Linked DNA regions of Homo sapiens: region 2 is linked to region 1. Evidence: fine-mapped expression QTL. A gene starts in region 1. The other region holds a variant in brackets. All regions are shown on one strand. Distances are from middle to middle. Region 1 holds the start of AMACR (alpha-methylacyl-CoA racemase). Region 2 overlaps C1QTNF3 (C1q and TNF related 3).

What was found. PIP is the estimated chance that this variant, and not a neighbour inherited with it, causes the effect.
Region 2: its variant is the best candidate, but not a certain one, in a credible set for the expression of AMACR in lung (TOPMed, PIP 0.60).

The regions. Positions count from the first base shown.
Region 1 is chr5:34,002,110-34,013,181 of GRCh38, reverse strand. AMACR (alpha-methylacyl-CoA racemase) reads left to right here and starts at 5,132. Exons shown (of 5, transcript NM_014324.6): 1 at 5,132-5,409; 2 at 7,283-7,426; 3 at 8,448-8,608. The coding sequence starts at 5,163. C1QTNF3-AMACR (C1QTNF3-AMACR readthrough (NMD candidate)) reads left to right here. Exons shown (of 9, transcript NR_037951.1): 7 at 7,283-7,426. RefSeq lists a silencer at 4,916-4,995.
Region 2 is chr5:34,030,114-34,041,185 of GRCh38, reverse strand. C1QTNF3 (C1q and TNF related 3) reads left to right here. Exons shown (of 6, transcript NM_181435.6): 2 at 5,428-5,539; 3 at 7,728-7,882. C1QTNF3-AMACR (C1QTNF3-AMACR readthrough (NMD candidate)) reads left to right here. Exons shown (of 9, transcript NR_037951.1): 2 at 5,428-5,539; 3 at 7,728-7,882. Among named protein-coding and RNA genes, the nearest start is that of C1QTNF3, 7.6 kb to the left of the region's middle. The variant A/G (reference allele first, on the strand shown) is at 5,761.

The sequences.
Region 1 (11,072 bases):
GCTCCATCTTAATTGTCAGTGGGAAGCCCTTCAAGTTAGTCCCTCTGCCCATTTGGGTCAGATTTAGGCTGGTGCCAATCCTGCACAGCTGGCAGGAGTTCAGCAGGGCAGGGGTGAGTGGAGTCTCTGTGCAGACTCTCCATCCTAACCAGACATTCATGCTGCAACCTTGAATGTGACTCTAGCAGCTCAAACTATTCTGTGCCCTGCCAATTGCCTGAATTCTGGCTTTCCCAGCAATTCTATGAGCTACTTGGTATCCTTCCAGTGAACTTTTTTTTTTGTATTTATGCCAAGAATCCTGATGGATCTAAGAGGAAGTAGTAGAAATGGGAAGCCAGTTAACATAAAATTGAGTGGTAAGGTAGTTTAGAAAAATAAATGCAATATAATATACTTTATCAAATAAAAAACAAAATAACATTTTGACAAAACAAAACATAGTATATAAATAGTACAGCTATGTCTGCAGATAGATATAATGGACTGTAGGACATACATCAAAGTCATGGGAGTGTTTGTCTCTTTTTTTTTTTTTTTTTTTTTAAACTGAGTCTCACTCTGTCACCCAGGCTGGAGTGCAGTGGCATGATCTCATCTCACTGCAACCTCCACATCCTGGTTTCAAGCAATTCTCCTGCCTCAGCCTCTGGAGTAGATTACGGGGGCCACCATGGCCAGCTAATTTTTGTATTTTTGGTAGAGATGGGGTTTCACCATGTCGGCCAGACTGGTCTCAAACTCCTGACCGTAAGTGATCCACTCACCTCGGCCATCCAAAGTGCTGGGATTACAGGCATGAGCCACCGCACCTGGCTGTGTTTACCTCTTGAATGCTGCGGTGGGGGAGGCAAAGAAATCTCACTACAGGTGAAAGTTAAAGAAGACTTTAGCTATGGAAGGAGTTTAAAAGCAGCTTGCATGATGATGCATTTACCCCCTTACTACAGGGATGCCCTGAAAGAGAAAGAAAAAGGCAAGTGAATCTCCATATTAACTGGATTTTGTGTAAATAGATGCATGATATTGTCTAGGAGGAAGAGAATTGAAAGACTGAATGCACTTAACAAGATATCCCTGGCCAAAGGATTATTTATGGTAAATAAACCCGGAATCTAAGAAGCATGGTTCCATAGCTAAAGCAATTCTCTGAGATATAAAATGAAGTCTATTAGGTGACCTGAGAACCTCGTTAGAGACTTCATCTGTAATTTGGGCAGAGGGGTTATTCGTTTACTAAGGCTGCCGCAATGAAATACCGCAGACTGGTTGGCTTAAACAATAGAAGTTTAATTTATCACAGTTCTGGAGGATAAAAGATCAAGATGTTGGCAGGTTTGATTTCTTCTGAAGCCTCTCTCCTTGGCTTGAAGACAGCAAGTGTCCTCACTTGATCTCACTGTGTCCTCACATGGTTCCCTTAGGTCTGTGTTTTTTTGGTCCTAATCTCCTCTTCTACAGATACTAGGATTGAATATTAGTCATATTGGATGAGGGCCCACCCATATGACTTCATTTTGGCTCTATCTCTAAATACAGTCACATTCTGAGGTATTGACGGCTAGGGATTCAACATATAAATTTTTATTGATTTATTATTAATACATAATATTCGTACATATTTATGGAGTACATGTGATATTTTGATACATGCATACAATGTGTAATGATCAAATCAGGGTTTTTAGGATATTCATCACCCAGAACATTTATCATTGTTTTGTGTTGGAAACATTTCAAATCTTCTCTTCTAGCTTTTTGTTTGTTTTTGTTTTTTTGTTTTGTTTTGTTTTCTTTTTGGAATAGGATCTCACTCTGTCTCCCTAGCTGGAATGCAGTGGTGTGATTATAGCTCACTGAAGCCTCAAACTCATGGGCCCAAGTGATCCTCAGACCTCAGCCTCATGAGTTAGTAGGTTTATAGGTGTACCCCACATCCAGATAACTTTTCAAGATTTTTTTTTTTTCAAGACAGAGTCTTGCTCTGTCGCCCAGGCTGGAGTGCAGTGGCACGATCTCAGCTCACTGCAAGCTCCGCCTCCCTGGTTCAAGTGATTCTCCTGTCTCAGCCTCCCTGGTAGCTGGGATTACAGACGCGCACCACCATGCCCAGCTAATTTTCATATTTTCAGTAAAGACGGGGTTTCACCAATTTTTCAAGTTTTTTGTAGAGATGGGGTCTCACTGTGTTGCCCAGGCTGGTTTCGAACTTCTGGCCTCAAGTGATCCTGCTGCATCAACCCCCCAAAATGCTGGGATCACAGGTGTGAGCCACTGCATCTGGCCACTATTTTGAAATATACCATATACTGTTGTTAACTATAGTCACCCAACTGTGCCATCAAATACTATTATTTAGCTATTATTTATTCCTTCTAACTACATGTTCATACCCATTATCCAATCTCTTTTCATCTCTGCCCCCCCATCATTCTACTCTTTATGAGATTAAATTTTTAACTCCCACATCTGAGTGAGAACGTGTGATACTTTTCTTTCTGTGTCTAGTTTATTTCACTTGACATAATGACCTCGAGTTCCATCCATGTTGCTGCAGATGACAGGATTTCATCCTTTTTTTATGACCAAACAATATTTCATTGTGTATATGTACACATTCTCTTTGTCCATTCATCCAGTAATGGACACTCAAGTTGATTCCATATTTTGGCTATTGTGAATAGTGCTGCAATAAACATGTGGGTACAGGTGTTCCTTTGACATACTGATTTCTCTTAAGATTTTTATCAAGACAATATGTGCACAGCTGAACATAGACCCTTATCAGGAGTTTTTGATTTTGCCTTTTGCCTTGTGATCTTTATTGGCCTCAGAAGCATGTGATCTTTGTTCTTCTTGTTTGCCCTTTGAAGCATGTGATCTTTGTGACCTACTCCCTGTTCTTAAACCTCCTCCCCTTTTGAAATCCTTAATAAAAACTTGCTGGTTTTGCGGCTCAGGTGGGCATCACGGACCTACCAATATGTGATGTCACCCCTGGTGGCCCAGCTGTAAAATTCTTCTCTTTGTACTCTTTCCCTTTATTTCTCAGACTGGCCGACACTTAGGGAAAATAGAAAGAACCTATGTTGAAATATTGGGGGCGGGTTCCCCCGATACTTTTGGACATATATCCAGTAGTGGGACTGCTGGATCATATAGAAGTTCTATTTTTAGTTTTCTCACAAACCTCCATACTGTTTTCCATAATGGCTAAACTAATTTACATTCCTACCAACAGTATATATAAGTTCCTCTTCTCTGCGTCTTTGCCAGCATTTGTTATTTTTTGTCTTTTTGATAATAGCCAGTCTAACTGAAGTAAGATGATATCTCATTGTGGTTTTGATTTGCATTTCCCTGATGATTAGTGATGTTGAGCATTTTTTCATATACCTGTTGGCCATTTGTATGCCTTTTGAGAAATGTCTGTTCAGATCCTGTGCCCACTTTTTAATGAGATTATTTCATTTTTTGCTGTTGAGTTGTTTGAGTTTCTTGTATAGTCTGCATATTAGTCACTTGTTGGATGAATAATTTGCAAAATATTTTCTTCTATTCAATAAGTTGTTTATTCTGTTGTTTCTTCTGTTGTGCAGAAGATTTTTAGTTTAATATAGTCCCATTTGCCTATTTTTTGTTTTTGTTGCCTATGCTTTTGAAGTCTTAGTCATAAAATCTGTGCCTAGGTCAATGTCCTGAAGTGTTTTATCTGTTTTCTTATAGTAGTTTTATAGTTTTGGGTTGTATGTCTTAAGTTTTTTAATCCATTCTGAGTTGATTTTTGTGTATGGTGAGGGATAGGGGTCTAGTTTCATTCTTCTGCATATGGATTTCCAGTTTTTCCAGCACTACTTATTGAATAGAATGTCCTTAATATATGTTCTTGGTGTTTTTATTGATAATCAGCTGGCTGTAAATATATGGATTTATTTTGGGGTTCTTTATTCTGTTCCATTGGTCTTTGTGTCTATTTTATGCCAATAGAATGCTGTTTTGGTTACTACACCTTGGTAGTATAATTTGAATTCTGGTAGTGTGTTGCTTCCTGCTTTGTTCTTTTTGTTCAGTGTTGCTTTGGCTATTCAGGACCTTTTGTGGTTTTATACAATTTTTTTTTCTATTTCTATGAAGAGAAAGCCACAGAGTCCTAAAATAATTCTAAAACTCATCATGACTTTCTTGCCTAAAAGATCTTGATTTCAATCGTGCCTAGTTTTGCTTTAATCACTTGCTTGAGAAATACATAAATCCCCACTTAAGATTAGTGCAGGCATATCTCTGGCACCCATTTCTGGTTCTATTAAAATTCCTAGAGATGTCAAAAATTACATTAGGCCACCTGACAGGCTATACCTAGAAGAGAAAAAATGATTTGTAAAAGCAGTGGGGCTATTTGCGATTGCTTTTTTTTTTTCTTAAATATCACCTATTAGGTTGAAAACCTGAAATTGCAGCTTTCTGTAGAAATGGCGGAAGACAAACTAACATTTTTAAAGCGCTCTCATTTAGCTCTGATGAGTACTACACCCCTGATATTCTTCTGATACTAAAATAATTTTCCTAGTGTAGTCTAAACTTTTTTAAAAAGACATGTAATCCGCGGAGTTTGTAACTCAAAACGAGTGCATCTAGGAGGTATCGCAAGCCGTTTCTGGATTAAATTCCCAGCTAGCTAGCTAGCTAAGCAGGGGCGGTGAAGAAGACAATCTGCAGCCTAGGGAAGAAAACGCTTTCGCATTGTTCTTACGTGTTTACGTTATTTTATTTCCCTAGAGCAAGGCAGGAGTAGGGACTCGAATGGTACAGTTGGGCTGGGGATCGCCCTGGTACAATAAAAGCGTCCAGAGAGGACGGTAACAGGCAGGAGCTCCAAAGGTCAGTCCCTGCAATTTAAGACTCAGGAATTTAGGTTGCACAAAAAGGAAAGCAACCTACTGCATTTGGCACTGGCGGTCCCGGGAGGCCGGGGGTGGGGAAGCGCCCAGTGCGCAGACTCCGCGGGCTTGCGCAGGCCCGCAAAAGAGGGACGGGGGTGGTGCCTTTGGGGCGCGGCGCCGCGGCTGGGGGCGTGGCGCCGGGGATTGGGAGGGCTTCTTGCAGGCTGCTGGGCTGGGGCTAAGGGCTGCTCAGTTTCCTTCAGCGGGGCACTGGGAAGCGCCATGGCACTGCAGGGCATCTCGGTCGTGGAGCTGTCCGGCCTGGCCCCGGGCCCGTTCTGTGCTATGGTCCTGGCTGACTTCGGGGCGCGTGTGGTACGCGTGGACCGGCCCGGCTCCCGCTACGACGTGAGCCGCTTGGGCCGGGGCAAGCGCTCGCTAGTGCTGGACCTGAAGCAGCCGCGGGGAGCCGCCGTGCTGCGGCGTCTGTGCAAGCGGTCGGATGTGCTGCTGGAGCCCTTCCGCCGCGGTGAGCCCGGGCCCCGCGGGCTGCTCTCGGGAAGTTCCCGCGGAGGGGAGGGGCCTGGCCGTTCGATCGAGGCTGCACCCGCCACACCTTTGCCCTGTTGCCGCAAGAACCCTTGTCGGCCCCAGCCTTCCAGATTTTTGCCTCCTAGGGTATTGTTAGTGATCATTCTTCCCAAACTGGATTGTCCAAAACTTGGGTTCTGAGATACTGCTGTTGCCCGGTTTCTCCTTTTGCCTCTCTGACTCCTTCCCAAATTCCTCCTTTTTTTTCTAAGAAACGTTCCGTATTTGCCTTTCTTAATTAATTGAGGGTCTTGAACCCTGTGAGAATCTAATGAAAGCCATAGGATTCCCTTCCTGGAAAACTGCATATAGGCGGTCATTCGGCTACCGTTTTGGAGTGCTGTACCCTCAAGCCATCCACGGGCCCAGGCTAACGCTCCTCCCTGCCTGAAATGCTGGCGTTCTAAGTCTCAGCATCTGCTCCCTGAAGCCCAGTTACCCATTCCCATCATTTTCACCTTTTTGTAGACTTCCCCCTTTCAGAGCGGCAGACGCTGGCATACACAGGTCCTGGGCATCGCCGTCAAGGCTGCCCGCCAGGCAGCTTCCACAAATCCCAAAATGAGCCTTTCCTTCTTCCTTCTAAAACAGCATCTCCACCTTCTGTATTATTTATTTCAGTGAATGCCTGAATCTCAAACTTGTACTTCATCATGGACTCCAGTCTTCCTTTCACATCCAATTTCAATGATCATCAATACAGTCATTTTGCTCCTTAGCCCACTCGGACTATTTCTCTCCATACCTGCTGCAACTGCCTTGACACTGGTGTGACAGCCTTTTAAAAACTGGTGTTTGGGGCTGGTATCACTCCAGTGGATTCTCAGACAGCTGCCAGAATAACTTTGTTCAAGTAGAAATCCAAAGCATTGCCTGGTCTATAGTGGGAAATCGGTAAATGGTGAATGAATGAATGCCTACGGCACAGCCGGCTTATTTAAATGCGTTAACTCATTTAACCCTCACAGCTGTATTTGAGGCTTGTAACAATAATGATTTAATAATTAAGATTATGTAATAATTTAAGAATGCTCCATTTAAGATGAGGGAGGCTTGTCCAAGGTCTTGTAATTAGGAGGAAGGTCGGCTGGGAATACGGATATAGCCTCCGGGTGAGGAGTTGTGACTGGTGTTTAGGTAGATGACTAGAGGTTTTCTGTGATTTATTTTAGCCTTAGGAAGGTAAAGATAGTGAGTTTATTATGTAATTTTGATTACTTTTAATCCCAGGAAATTTCAGGTGCTGGTTACCTGGGGTTTGTGCTATAAATACTATACTTGTTGATAGCTTAAAAACTCTCAGGTGCTATTGTCACTAACCACTCTTTCTACAGATGGGTGCTAAACTTTTTCGTGAAGGTACTGATGCTAGGCACTTTAGCGCCTGTGGAAACATCAGGTGTAAATTCTGCAGGAGGAGCTCATGAGCTGATAGGGAAGATAAGTGTATGCATGTACAAGCAAGTGCAGCTAAGGTGGGATGTGGTAAACACTGATGCGGTATAGAAAAAGAGAAAAGGGATTTACTAAAGGGATGAGACCCTGCTCTGGGGATTGAATAAATAGGCTTGGATAAACCTAGAGGGAAACAGAGATGTACTGGGAGAAATTACATCCTGGGAAGAAGCCACACATTCCAGAAATGGTGGCTTCACTCTTTGAGTCCTTAACTGCTGTAAACATGCCATTAGCCTACAGCAAATGTTATTAATATTACTTGCAATGGTGCTATTTTATGTTTGTCTCAGAGAAGGGATTATCTCCATCCTCAATTCATACTCTCTTAAGAAGATCGTTACTTTTCTCTTAAGGTGTCATGGAGAAACTCCAGCTGGGCCCAGAGATTCTGCAGCGGGAAAATCCAAGGCTTATTTATGCCAGGCTGAGTGGATTTGGCCAGTCAGGAAGCTTCTGCCGGTTAGCTGGCCACGATATCAACTATTTGGCTTTGTCAGGTATGTTGAAAAAAAATTTAGTCTACACTTTTAATTTATTCCATCAAGATCTACAGGTATGTTGATTAACAATAATTTGTAAAGGTAAAAATTTAAACATTTATCAGAATCAATCAAGAGAGCATGGGTGTTCAAAATGGATCGGTTTGAGTCTTGAAACAATCATTCTCAACCTTCCCTCACCCCATCCCTTAACAGGTTGGAAGGTTAATACATGCCCACTACTATCATTTATTTACTACATTTGTTGAGTCAATTCTCAGACAAACCCCTGCTAGGAATTAAGAGGCTTACTGGGTACTACGGATGGTTGCTCTGTGGTTTGAAAATGTTGACATAGTTAGATTCTGACAGCTACTTCTCCCCCGGACCCCGAAATCTCCACCCACCATATTGAGAATCATTGCCTGAGTCATTGTTTCAGACTTCTATGAGCACTAAAAAAAGCCCATGGTTTTCAGGTCCTAATATCACTTTATTAGAGTTTTTGCCTGTGACGACATGTGAGATAGGCCTGATTCCAGAATTCTAAGAACCATGTGTTGTTGACTATAGGACATTTCAGATTTTCTGTGAGTACACATTTAAAAGTTGAGGAAAGAAGTGGGTATAGAATTGTCTCTTCACATCTACTTAAAAATTAAATTCCTTTTTTTTCTTGTCTGCAAGTATTTTCTTACATTTCTTTATGCTAAGAATGAAAGTGCATTTACTGTTTTAAAACCACAAAATAAATAATCATTTTCTTTTCCAAAAGTAAGTGAGTAAAAACTTAGCAATATTTGAAAATGTTGGTTGGAATAGGTTTTAGAGAGGAAAACAACAAAACAAGGATCCTGTCTTGAGGGAAAGCCTGTTTATGAGTTTACTGACTAAGCTCAGATTTGGAAAAGTGATGTATACTAGCTTTCACTTAGATTATCTGCTGGAGAGATTGATTATTCCTCTAAGATGCTCACATATTTATTTTAAGAAGAGATTAAATTTAAAAGAGACATTAAATTTGTTTTTAATGATGTAGGTGTTCTCTCAAAAATTGGCAGAAGTGGTGAGAATCCGTATGCCCCGCTGAATCTCCTGGCTGACTTTGCTGGTGGTGGCCTTATGTGTGCACTGGGCATTATAATGGCTCTTTTTGACCGCACACGCACTGGCAAGGGTCAGGTCATTGATGCAAATATGGTAAGTATTAATTGGGGTAGATGCCTGCCACTTGTCCCTAAGTTTAAGATATAGCTGCTTAAAATCCTTTTTTTGAAGAAGAAGACAAGAGATAAATGACATTTGAAGTTTCAAGCCAGGTTACCAAGGATATCCTTTTCTTTTTAAAATAGACTTATGTCTTTTATATATCTGTTAGAATGTCATATTTTGATCATCTGTCCTTGGAGTCAGTTCTCTGAACTTTCTGTGACTCATGTGATTCCTACGTTGTTTTAGGTTGGTGCAAAAGTAATTGCAGGTTTTGCCAAATATTTGCCAACCTAAATATTTCAACAATTTTCCCCAAGTATCTCTTGTGCTTAGTATATCATTTTCAAGCAGTCGTCATTCAAAAAAAGTTCAAGAAGTCTCCCTCAGCTGGTAGAGAAAATTCTTAGGAATGCTAAGGTCAAATGGACCTCCCTGTCTAAACCTTCCTGCTGCGTTTTATAGGGGATGCTCTGATATCATAACACTTCTGTTTGTTCACTGTCATCCACTGAGTGCTTGCCTCATGTTCTGCTGAGCACATTCCCTGTGTGATTTCTTCTTATTCTCAAAACTGCATTTGGAATACCTTGTTGTTTTAAAGAGGAGGGAACGGAAGCATTGCCATTTGCTCAAGATCTCACAGCTAGTGGGTAAGAGAGCCCACTCCAGCACCACCACTGCGTGTTTGCATTTTCACAGACATTTGGAGGTGGGATGGAGAATGGATCTGAGGAGACAAGACTGGAGGTACAGAGACCAATGACTGGGTTATTGCTGAAGAGATCAGGGCAAGTACTAAAGCAGTTAATGGTAGAGTTGGTTTGCATTGAAGGGACATTTGAGGTATAAAATTGCTGGGAATTGATAATGGACTGACAGGGAGCGAAGAGGGAGAAGTTGAGGCTGGCTCCCAGGTTTCTGGCTTAGATGACCTGCTAGTGTCTTGAGGGAAGACTGCTGAACACAGTGGTCAGAGCATAGAGTGGCAGCTGACTACCTCCGTCCCAGCTCTGCCATTTACTAGCTCTGTGATCTTGGGCAAGTTACTTAACCTCTCTGTGCTGTAGTTTCCTTTGTAAAATGGAGATAATAATGACATCCACCTCATAGCATTGTTAGTTGCTATGAGAATTCAATGAGTTCATCCATTGTTCAGTGTGGGAACAGTGCCTGGCGTACAGTGGGCCCTCTGTAAAAGTTTGTCATTGTGGTTATTTTTACTAGAAGAAAAGGAACTCAGTTTTGGTCTTTTCAGTTTTAAAGTGCCTTTCAGATATCCAGGTGGGATACTTGAGGTTAGGGACTAGAAACAGATTTCGGAGTTATTTGGGAGCCATATGAGACTATGTGATCCACTAGGAAAGGGGATAGAACACCGGCATTTAAGGAATGCGTGGGCAGAAAAGAGAAGCAAGGGCTGAGGACAGCTAAGGAGAGAAGCAGAATGGAGTGTTGTCATGGAAACCAAAGAAAGGAGTGGTCAGAGGGTCAAATGTTGGTGGATACCTCAAGAGTTTAGAGACTGAGAGTGTCAACTGGATTGGGTCCTGGCTGATCTTCACAAAATCCATTTTCTACCAGAAACCCCCTCATCTCCAAAGCTTCAGCCTGCGCTTCCTTCTCCTGTTCATGGTGAATCATGACCAGCCCTGTACTGAGTGTGTGCCTGTGGGACACTGTCATCAGGGCACATCTCACACTTTCCAGTGTGCCCTCTCTGAAGTGTGTACCAGCAGCAGGGGAGTGTGGTTTATCTTTTGTGGGCCAGCTCTTGGCGTACTCATGGCATAGTCGCTGCATGAGATAGCAGCACCGGATTTATACCAGTACCCGCCAAACTCAAGACCGGTACCTTCCACAGGGCTTCTGTGATCCACACAGTTCCCTGAGGGAGACGTGCTACTATCATTGGCATTGAAGACTTGAAGGCTTGGCGAGGTTAACTGCCTTCCTCTAAAGCAGATGACGGGAAAGGGTCCGAAGCACTGCCCCAGGCAGTTGGACCCTAAAGCCACTGCTTTCAACAACTTCCCCTGCTGCCCCAAGAGCATGGTCCCTGGGGTCCAAAAGGAATGAACTAAGAGCAAACATGGAGTCTTGGGAGTGTTAAGGAGAATTTGAGCCTAGATACTTCTCTAGTAATAATTTGAATAATTTACTGAAGAGATGCAATTGATTATCATCAAATATAAATAAAAGGTGATTGCTGCTTTCAGCAGAATGTAGCTAATCAGAATTATATAATGATTAGAAGATAGTAAGGTTGGCTGGGCATGGTGGCTCACGCCTGTAATCCCAGCACTTTGGGAGGCTGAGGTGGGTGGATCACCTGAGGTCAGGAGTTCGAGACCAGCCTGGCCAACATGGTGAAACCCCATCTCTACTAAAATACAAAAAAGTAGCTGGGCTTGGTGGTACGCGTCTGCAGTCCCAGCTCCCTGGGAGGCTGAGG
Region 2 (11,072 bases), 28 kb before region 1:
TTGTGCTATGTTCTTCCTTCTTTCCCTACTTCCCCTGTCCCTCTTCTTTGATCGTAATTCAATTTTCCTCTTATTCATTCAGTTCCCGTGTATTTCTTGTGCTTCTACTTTGTACCAAACTTTAAAAGGGGGGCCAGGGATATATAAAGATAAATATGCCTGAGCTCCCATGTCCAAACCATCCTGAAGGGCTGTAGTAGAGATAAATTTTTGTTAATTAAATTAAGTTTAATTAAATGCCATGTGTTAAATAAAGTCAGTACATGAAAGGCAATTGGGCAAAAGTGTCAAAGTACTGATAGTTTTTGAGCTGGATCTTAAAAGATGGTATTAAAAGAATGACTATCCACAGCAAATTAAAAAAAAAAAAGTGCTGCAACAGAGACTGGAAAGCCTGTGAGGAGTTGGCTGTGGCTGAAGCTCCTGGGTTGGGGATGCAGGGGTGGGGGTTGGGGGGACGACGGGACATTACACGACTTTAGTGCCAAGAAGGATTCTGCTAGCTGGTTTAGGAGCTTAGATTTTGCTTTGCTAGCTAGGTTTTGTTTGTTCATAGCAGGACAGTGAGGTAATCAGATATATGGTCTGGAAAGATGCTCCAGCTGTGGGTTCATGGTGGAGTACAATGGCCAGAGATCTGGGGTGGGCAGACCTGGGCTCTTTTTTCCTGGTATTTTCTTCTCTGTAGCCTCTTTTTCATTCACCTTTGTCAATCTCCCCTCCTTCTCCCGGATACCCATTTCTCCCTCCTCCCACTTCCCTTCCTCTTCTTTCTTTTCCCTTTTTTTGGGGCAGGAGGTTTAAAAAAAGGAGCTATGACTCTCCTTCCTAGAAGTCACTTACTAGTAGTAGAGCTCAGTTCTGCATCCCTACCCCTAGGCCTCCATCTGCAAAATTGATGGAGCATTTCTTAGAGACAAACTCTTTCTCGCATGCTGCAAATTTACCTGCCTTTTGCATACAAATTTGTCCTGCTTTTGGGAAAGGGGATGATAAACAAGGAGGTCATAAATAGCAACTACCTACATGTAATTTTCCCTTACCTAGGAGAAAACTTCTGAATTAACACATCCCTTCCAACTTGTTCTAAGAGTTCCAACAAAAGACTCAACAATGCAAAAGCATTGCTCCATTCAACTGAACTTTGAAAGACAAGGCCAGAGGAAGGAACGTGTAATGCAATGCTGCTGAAGGGTTCTCACGAGGTGCTCGACTAGTAGTAACCAGAAGTCTCTCACTGTTCTGGTGGCAGCTCTGTGCCCTCAAAGTGCCCTCAAGTAGCTTGGTCTTGCACTTCCAATCCTAGTTGGCTCTAGCATTGAGCAACTTCATCTCCTGGAGCTGAATTCTTGTGCCTAGATACTAAAAACAAAATGTTTCTAAATTATTATTTGAGGCTTTGGAAAATACTTTAGTATCTTTGCATTGTAGAGCTGGAAAAAAATGCGAGACGACTGTAGTGGAAAAGTGGGAAATCTTCTCTTGTTTCATCCTCTGAAGATTCTCTGAAAATTAACTGTCCAAAGGCAGATCAATAGGAGAAACACACATACCGCATGGGGATGATTTCCCAATAGCCCAATGTGGTATGCATGCTTACACACCCTTCCACGTAGGGTAGCAGGGAGTTGGGGAATGTAGAAGTAAATTACAAAGTTCCTCTGAGCCCTGAGGGAGGTGCTGTTACCAAAAGTGAATCCACACGGGTCTGCAACAACCTCAATTCTTGGCTCCTCAATTCCATTGAGGGTCATAAGGCGGAAGGAGAGACCAACGCAAGTTTTAGAGCAGGAATGAAAGTTTATTAAAAAGTTTTAGAGCAGGAACAAAAGGAAGGCAGGTATACTTGGAAAGGGCTAAATGGGCAACTTGAAAGACAAGTGCACGGTTTGACCTTTTGACTTGGGGTTTTTTTACGTTGGCATACTTCTGGGGTCTTGCGTTACTTCTCCCTTGATTCTTCCCTTGGGGTGGGTTGTCCACATGTGTAGTGGCCTGCCAGCACTTACTTGGGAGGTGAGCATGCATAGTATGTTTACTGGAGTTGTAACCATGCTCACTTGAGGTATTCTTCCCTTACCAGCCAAATGCTCCTAGGAGGTCATTTGCCAATTAAACTCTGCCATTTTGCCTCTTAATGCACATGCTTGAGCCCACTTGCGCAACTCCTGAGATCTTATTGGGAAGCTGCCGATAACCAGTTTCAGGTTTTTGCTATCTTTAGGAAGACTGCCTTTACCCGGCACTGGCTGCAACCAATTATTATTTTAGAGAAACAGTTAAAAGCCACTTGATCATCACCTGATGATCACCTGATATTCCCGGTCAGGTGGAGCCCTCCCCTACCCTGCTCATGTCTGAGTAGCTACCTACTGTAACAGTATCAAGAAGGGAAGGGAGAGAAATTTACTGTGAACAGAGGTTGTCTTAAAGCTTCCCAGATTATGGCTCCTAGCTTCCCTCAGGAAATAGAAAAAAAGCCTGTCTGAGCCTTGTGATGACTCCCAGTCTCTTCAGTTCTCCAGTGGTTAATCTTTCCTGGTTATTTGATGAGATTCCTAAGGAGGGGGTCTTAAGACAATTGCATTTCTTTTGGAAAGATGCTTTCTTAGTCAAATAAAGAAATTCCAGACAGAGTCCCTCCCGGCACTTCTGGAAAGAAGATCAGAGAGACTGGGAGGCAGGGAAAGGTCAGAGAGAGACCTTGGATCTGAGGCTTCTCTCTCTTTTTTTAATAAGAGATTTGCCACAAGTCAGTTTTCCCTGTGATAGCTCTTCCAATACGTCTTTCTTAAAACACCTAAGTTCAGAAGGATCATGAGGCCCCTCTCTCATGATCTGCATTCATACTGAAAATCAAGATCAAGCAAGCTTTTGTCCTGCTCTGCAGAGCCTTCCATCCTCCCTGTGCTCACCTTATCTTCGTGGCTTATTTCTGAAGCCTTCCATTTCCAAAGCACTCAACACGCTGAAGCACGTATTTTGAAGAGTCATTTTCTGTGCACCAACACCACCTCATCCAATCCTCTGATTTAATAGCCAAAAACAAAACAAACAAAAAAAGATGTCTGGAGAACAGCGACTTCTCTAAGGTCACACAGCACCATGATGGAAATTCTGGTTTCAGTCCAGTGGGTGTTTCAACATTCCTAAGCATCTCAGTATTTCCATTCCATTCCTATATCGATGGTTCCACTTGAGGATTTTCCCTCCTTCCCCTCCCTTCTCCATCCTTAAAATTCATCATTGGCAGAGCCCTGGATTTTCTGAGGTTTAAAAGGCTGAATTTCACATTGGCAAAACCATAACAGGAAATATGGAATCCTTCCTTCTCAGATTACAGTTTTGGATTAGAAGGTGGGGTGTGCCGTGGTGTCTTTGACTTTCCAAGTGTCCTGAAATCCCTCAGATAAAATCCCTGAGATGAAATCCCTCATCTCAAACCAATGGCTTTAGTTGACTTTTCTTCCCCTACCAATTTGACAGAAGGTTTTCATAGACTCTAGTTCTTGTCCAGGTTTGAGCCTGGTAGACTGAAGACAAGACTAGGAGTTAGCTCTAAGTTATAGCTCCTGATCAGGCAAGACTTGGGTTCTGAGAGGTTGCAGGAGAATGCTTGTGCTACAGATTCTGTTCTGTGTTTTCCCTGAATAGCTTGGTGGAAAATTTTAGGACAAAGCAGTGAGAGAGTGAGAACAAAATTCAAGCCCATTTTTTATTAAAGAAAAGAAAGTAAGGTCTAAGTGTTTAACTGTGTGAAGTTTGATCCAGTTCTCTGCTTAAATTTTTAGTGACAAATACAACTTGAATTTTAAATTCTTTTTTCCTCCCTCTGTGTCTCCTTTTTCTTTCTCTTCTTCCCTGGCCTCCTTTTTCTCTCCTTTGCTTCATTTTTTTCATGAATCTCTTAGCAACAACATGCTGTTTTCAAAAGACCGTTGAATTATAATTGATGTCTAGGAACATTTCCACAAGTATTTTGTATGACATAATTAATAGGCAAGTTGCCAGTTTAGATGGGAGTTCAAATTTCATAAGCAACTTTAACTCTTCTGTCAATCAACTTCCACTAGGTCTTTAGCTCTTTGACGGTAAACATACATTTTAGAAATTTATCTTTGTATAAATAAGCATTTCACTCAGTGTCATACTTGAGCATGTTTAGTACCCATTAAGTGCTTATTAAACATTGGTTCAAACAGTGAGATAATCATTTCACAATTTTTTTTTTTTGAGACTGTGTCTTGCTCTTGTCGCCCAGGCTGGAGTACAATGGTGCTATCTCAGCTCACTGCAACCTCCGCCTCCTGGGTTCAAGTGATTCTCCTGCCTCAGCCTCCCAAGTAGCTGGGATTACAGGCATGCACCAGCATGCCTGGCTAATTTTTGTATTTTTAGTAGAGATGGGATTTCACCATGCTGGCCAGGCTGGTCTCCAACTCCTGACCTCAGGTGATCCACCTGCCTCGGCCTCCAAAAGTGCTGGGATTACAGGCATCAGCCACCATGCTCAGCCCAATCATTTCACATTTTAAAGTGGAATGTGTGAAATAGAAATCATGTTAAATAGTTGATTTACTGATAAAGTTAAAGTTGTTTCAAGATGTAGATAATTAATAAAAATGTATTGGACTTATAGTTAATAGCAATGTATTATATTCTTGAAAATTGTTAGGAGTAGATTTTAAGTGCTCTCTCTACAAAAACAGTATATGAGACAACACATATGTTAATTAGCTCAATTTAGTATTTTACACTGTGTACTTATTTTATAACAACATGTTATACGTGATAAATATATATATAATTTCTAGTTGTCAGTTAAATAAGTAAATAAATGTATTGGACTAAAAAATACTTTATTTCCTTCGTTTTCTAAGACAATTTAAGTGTGCTATGGCTGTTTGAAAAACTAGTGTTACTATTCAGAATTTCTAAGAGATCTTAATCTAGCTCTTAACTCAGTATCATGGATATAGTAAGCATTTAAAAACAGTGCTTAAAGTGGATAATTCTTGTAATTTGAGGACCATCTACTCAATTTAGCTACATCTGGGGCTATGGCAGTTGGAAAAGAGAAAAGGCTTCCAAGTCCACTTCTGAAGGAGTTTCTTCCTTTGCTGTTACAGTAGCAGCAGGAAGGCACTTTCCAGAAATAGGACCCAACTTCCCACCCCCACCCACACGCTTTTCAAAGAGCATCTTCCTCTATTGACTTTCTTGTTGCCTTTTCCTTTGATCATCAACTGACCTTAGCTACTCCCTGACCCTTTGCCATTGATATCTCCACCCCATCCCATCTTTTGTGATCTTGCTGTGATTCGATTGGAATTAAGCTTACCTAAGGGCCAAGGCCAGTGGAAATTTAAAAATCCTAATTGCTCACAAGTACCTTTTTTTCTGAAGCTTCTCTTTCTGTCTTTTTAGTCTCCACAAACCGGAGGACTACCCCCAGACTGCAGTAAGTGTTGTCATGGAGACTACAGCTTTCGAGGCTACCAAGGCCCCCCTGGGCCACCGGGCCCTCCTGGCATTCCAGGTAAGGATGAGCAAGACATACTGTCAATCTAATTGCAGCCTGAGCTAAAGTAGGAGCAAAGGGCAAACCTTAATAATTTGGGATCACTTCTGTGTGATCCAAAGGATCCGCTAGACTCTTGGCACCCTGGAATACCAGGTTCATAGGCTGGGAGGCTCCTCAACAGCATTGAGTCCGAAACGACCAGGTCATAGTCTTCGTTCCAGTATATCTGCCACAGC[A/G]TGCTTTATGAAGGGCAGAGTAGAGCCAAAAGCTTACTGCTCTGGGCTACAGCCATCTCAATGCCAGTCACTGAGCTGTGCATCCTTCTGTGTGACTCTAGGTCCAGCTAAGTGCTTCTTCCTCCAGTCTCAGGATCTCTCCATGTTCAGCCGTCTCTCAGTTGACTCTCATGCCACTCTTGACCTCATGGAAACATTTTTAGGCTCCAGTACCATGTAGTGGTATGGGGAATGCTCTGGAGCTACATGAGACCCCACTAGACCAGCAATTCAGTCATCTGTACTGTGCCAATGCCACCAGGCATAGGAGAGTGCCGCGGGCCTGCTGGTACCCTGGGTCAGTCCAGGAAAGGGTAGCCCAGGTCTCCTCAATATGGGGCTCCCAAGCCTATCTTGGGTTTTATTGTCTTCATCCTCAGGTTAATCCCTAGGGTAGGACCTCATCTCAGGGTCTGGCCAAAGTCCACTGGCTCTTCTGTGACTTACTCTCATTGATGTTAATATTTATCAAATGTGGTTCAATTTTTTTTCTACTTTTGAGTAGCTTCTTGCACAAAACCAAATTTACAGCAAGAAAATCTTATGTTAAACTTTAAACTACACTTACTGGCTTGGAATCTATGTCATTGGCCATCAAGGACAGCAGCCAGCAGGAGCAATGATGTAGGGGTAGGGCCTACTTCGACCCTTGTAAAATCTTCTCAGGTCTTAACTCTTGTGAGGTTACACAAAAGATTGGCCTTGGTTAAATGTTTTCTAACCAGGAAATGGCTTTGTCACTGAACACATTAATTTGTAAACACAGTCAAAGTTCATCCATTTGGTAGGGTTGTAAGCCTGGTATGATAACCAACCAAGGGTAGCATGCAAAATGAACAGCAAAAAGCCTGAAATTTAGCAAATATTAAAAATAAAGAAGAGGTGTAGAAATTGTCTCTTGTTGGCAAAGGGAAAAGTTAAAATTGTTTTCCAACTCTTGCTTTCAAAATCATTGCTGTAATTTGTTTAATGAATGAGTTTACCTTTTCCCCAGTTATAAAAGTGATGTGTTTTTTGTAGAAAACTTCAAAGAAACAGAAAAATATACAGAATGACATGAAAATTACTCATGTTCCACATTTAGAAAAGAACCTCTGTGAATATTTTTCTGTAACTTATTCTTGTCTTTTTTTCCCTATGGATATAATACATAAACACATATTTTTCCAAACAAAGATAGTATCATGTTATTTCTATTTACTCATAACTTTCTTTTGCCTGAAACAAAGTCTGGCTCTTTTGTCCAGGCTGGAGTGAAGTGGCATGATCCAGGCTCCCTGTAGCCTTGGCCTCTTAGGCTCAAGAGGTCATCCTGCCTCAGTCTCCCAAATAGCTGGGACTACAGGTGTGCACCACCACTCCTGGCTAATTTTTTAATTTCTATTTTTGTAAAGATGGGATCTCACCATATTGCTCAAGCTTGTCTCAAACTCTAGGGCTCAAGTGATCCTCCCACTGTGGCTTCGCAAAGTGTTGAGATTACAGTTGTGAGCCACTGTACCTGGCCACTTATAACTTTAAAATCTAAAAATATCATGAATATCACTATATCATTAAATGTTTTTCTTCAGCCTTCTTTTTTATGACTATATAACATAGTTTCTAGAATATGTCATGCCCTCCTAGTATTGGTGATTATATAGGTGGTTTCCAATCTTTGCTATTTTAAATGATAATGTGATAATCAGAATTGTACACAATTTTTCCTCCAAGCCTCGCTTCAAAGGATAAACAGGCTTTGGAGCTTTAGGGTATCTAAGGCTTCTTTCAGAGCCTATTGCCCTATTTAGATGATGATACCCCTTGGTTATATTTGGGATTATTCTGAATGGTCCCCTTTCATAATTGAGTTTGGATAGTATGTCTAGAAATGGATGGTAAGTATGAGTGACTGGGTTTTCTCATGTGATGATGTCTGGTTGTTTAAGGAAACCATGGAAACAATGGCAACAATGGAGCCACTGGTCATGAAGGAGCCAAAGGTGAGAAGGGCGACAAAGGTGACCTGGGGCCTCGAGGGGAGCGGGGGCAGCATGGCCCCAAAGGAGAGAAGGGCTACCCGGGGATTCCACCAGAACTTCAGGTAAACCATCCTCGGTACATCTCCTGGTGGCTTTCCAACCTGCCTGACCAAAAGGGGCCAGGAATCAGGATGTTCGAGCGCTTCCTCAAGTCTTCCCCAATCCTGAGTAAATCTGAGTCTCAGTTTGTTCATCTACATCACAGGATGTTTGCATAAGGCCCATACTGTCCAAAAGGAGGACTTAGATACTATTCTTAGGGAGGAGAGACATTTATGAAGGGTGAAATCTAAGTCCCTCATAGAACCAAATCCAAGGCAACCCTAAATATAAACTTATCTCCTATTTTCCCAAATAAGATGTTTTAAGAATGTAATAAGATGTAATAAGGGTTTGGGCCAACTTGAATGTATAAACATTTAAGTATATAAATGGAATGATGAAATGTCTAGTTATAATATTGTATTTATTAACATTGTTATATTTACATATACTAATCCATACATAAATATTGATATATATTGTTTTCTCTCAACTCAGATTTTGTGGTATAATTTTTGTTTATTTTTTGAAACAGAGTCTTGCTCTGTTGTCCAGGCTGGAGTACAGTGGCACGATCTTGGCTCACTGCAACCTCTTCCTCGTGGGTTTGAGCAATTCTCCTGCCTCAGCCTCCCTATAGCTGGAATTACAGGCATGCATCACCACACCTGGCTAATTTTTGTATTTCTAATACAGACGGGTTTTTGCCATGGTGGCCAGGCTGGTCTCAAATTCCTGGCCTGAAGTGATCTGCCTGCCTCGGCCTCCCAAAAAAGTGCTGGGATTACAGGCTTGAGCCACCACACTTGACCTTGTGGTATAATTTTTACTTGAGCTTTTCTTGTCAGAATCTTCTTTATCAATGGAGAATTTCAGTTTTGAGCCATCCACTCAGTGTTCCAGACCAGATTACATTCATTTCAGCATAAAGTTTAAAAAATCAATTTATGAGGTTAAAACTGTACATTTTTTTCCAGGCTCAAGTACCCATTTACCTATTCTTTCTCTCTCTTTTAAATGATCATTAAAGTTCTTATTGCCAACACGATCTTAAACTTGTAAATGTGAGGTTAGGTCACAAGGAAAATTACTAACTTTGGGTTATTTCTGGAAGGTGGAGGAGGGCTAATATTTTGAAATGGATCCCCTCTGGGGGACTTCTATCAGCATTGAAAACTAGCATTTTTTAAAAATTAAGTTTCTTTCTGACTAGTGTCTTCCCAAAAAAAGTAACTTGTGGATAAAAATAAAGTAACTGAGATAAAGTACTGCAACATGAGAGATTTTTGAAGAACTAGACTATAAAGCGATTCTTGCCTGAAAGATCAATTAGGGGGAAACTGTCTTTCATTTGTGCGTGTATGGTGGTGGTTTGACCCTGTATAAGTTCCATCATTTTTCTGGGCCTTGGTTTCTCAAGTTTAAAATAGCTTGAATAGTTAGTGTGTTACTCTCATTTGTGGGTTTTGCAACTTTTAAATGAAAGCCGTTTTGTTTTGTTTTGTGTGTGTGTGCACAGGCTGGAGTGCAGTGGTGTGATCTTGGCTCACTGCAGCCTCCACCAAGGTTCAAGCGATTCTCTTGCCTCAGCCTCTGGAGTAGCTGGGATTACAGGTGCGTGACACCATGCCCGGCTAATTTTTTTGTATTTTTAGTAGAGACGGCATTTCTCTATGTTGGCCAGGCTGATCTCAAACTCCTGGCCTCCAGTGATCGGCCTGCCTCGGCCTCCCAAAGTGCTGGGATTACAGGTGTGAGCCACTGTGCCTAGCCAAATGCTGTTTAATAATTTCAGCAACCTGGGATCCATGTGCCAATATAAATTTACAAACAAAAAGGCTAGAGATGCCACTCAGCCAGGTTAAGGTATTTAATAAGACAGAAGATAAACATCTCAAAGCTAGACACTCTAACCCATAACCTATGAATGGTAAACCACGGAGAAGGGGCCCTAGAGTAGCCAGTTTGATAGAGAACATTCTGGGCAATTATTAAATTTGTCCCATCAGCTATTTTACCCTAAAATCACAATACAATCATTTGGGTCTTACACAGATTGTGAAGGAGGGAACTTCACATTCTTTGAAGGTCCCAGCAAATTAAAGAATTTATTAATCTAACTTACACTCAGTTTCAATGACTCATTTGGACGAAGGATTAACTTTGACTTTCACAGCTCATTCTTCAATGGTGGTTTTAAGCAAAAGCTTTTCTTTTCTTTTCTTTTTTTTTAACTTTTATTCTAAGTTCAGGGGTACATGTGCAGGTTTTTTACATAGTTAAACTTGTGTCGTGGGGATTTGTTGTACAGATTATTTTATCACCAGATATTAAGCCTAGTACCCATTGGTTATTTTTCCTGATTCTCTCCCTCCTCCCACCTTCCATCCTCCCATAGGCCCCAGTGTGTGTTGTTCCCCTCTATATGTCCATGTGTTCTTATCATTTAGCTCCCACATATACATGAGAACATGCAGTGTTTGGTTTTCTGTTCCTGCATTAGTTTGCTAAGGATAATGGCCTCCCGTTCCATCCATGTTCCTGCAAGGGACATGATGTCATTCTTTTTTATGGCTGCACAGTATTCCATGGTGTATATGTAGCACACTTTCTTTATCCAGTCTATCATCAATGGGAATTTAGATTGATTCCATGTCTTTGCTATTGTGAATAGTGACAAAAGTTTTCTTGACAGGCGGAATTGTCTCAAGGCTTTTAAAATTATTGTTAACATTTTGTATTTTGAACTTCAACCCTGTCTTTGGATATTAGTAGTATAGAGGTGGCAACAATAGTAGTAGTGGTGGCAAGAGGAGGAAGAGTACTACCCCATTCTCCACTTAGGGGATATAGAAATTTGAGGCCCAATTACTAATTACTCAATTGCCAAGTGACAGAATTAAGAGAGGTGGACCTTAATCTCATATCTTTGGACCCAAATAGACAGCCTTATTCCCAAACTCATAGAGCCTCTTGGTTGCCACCGTGAGCAGGTTTCTCAAGTTAATTCTCTTTGCTGATCTTTTACTGATTAAGCAGAGGCTTTCAAAGTCCCTTAAAAGATTACACATAAAGTATTTGTAACCATTCCCAGAAATGGGTGTTGACCATTAAATGACTTCTTGGATTCTCCCATCTCTAAACTTTACAGTTCCAAGATGACATTTTTTCATCCAAAATCATGCTGAGAAATTTTTGCTGTTCTAATAT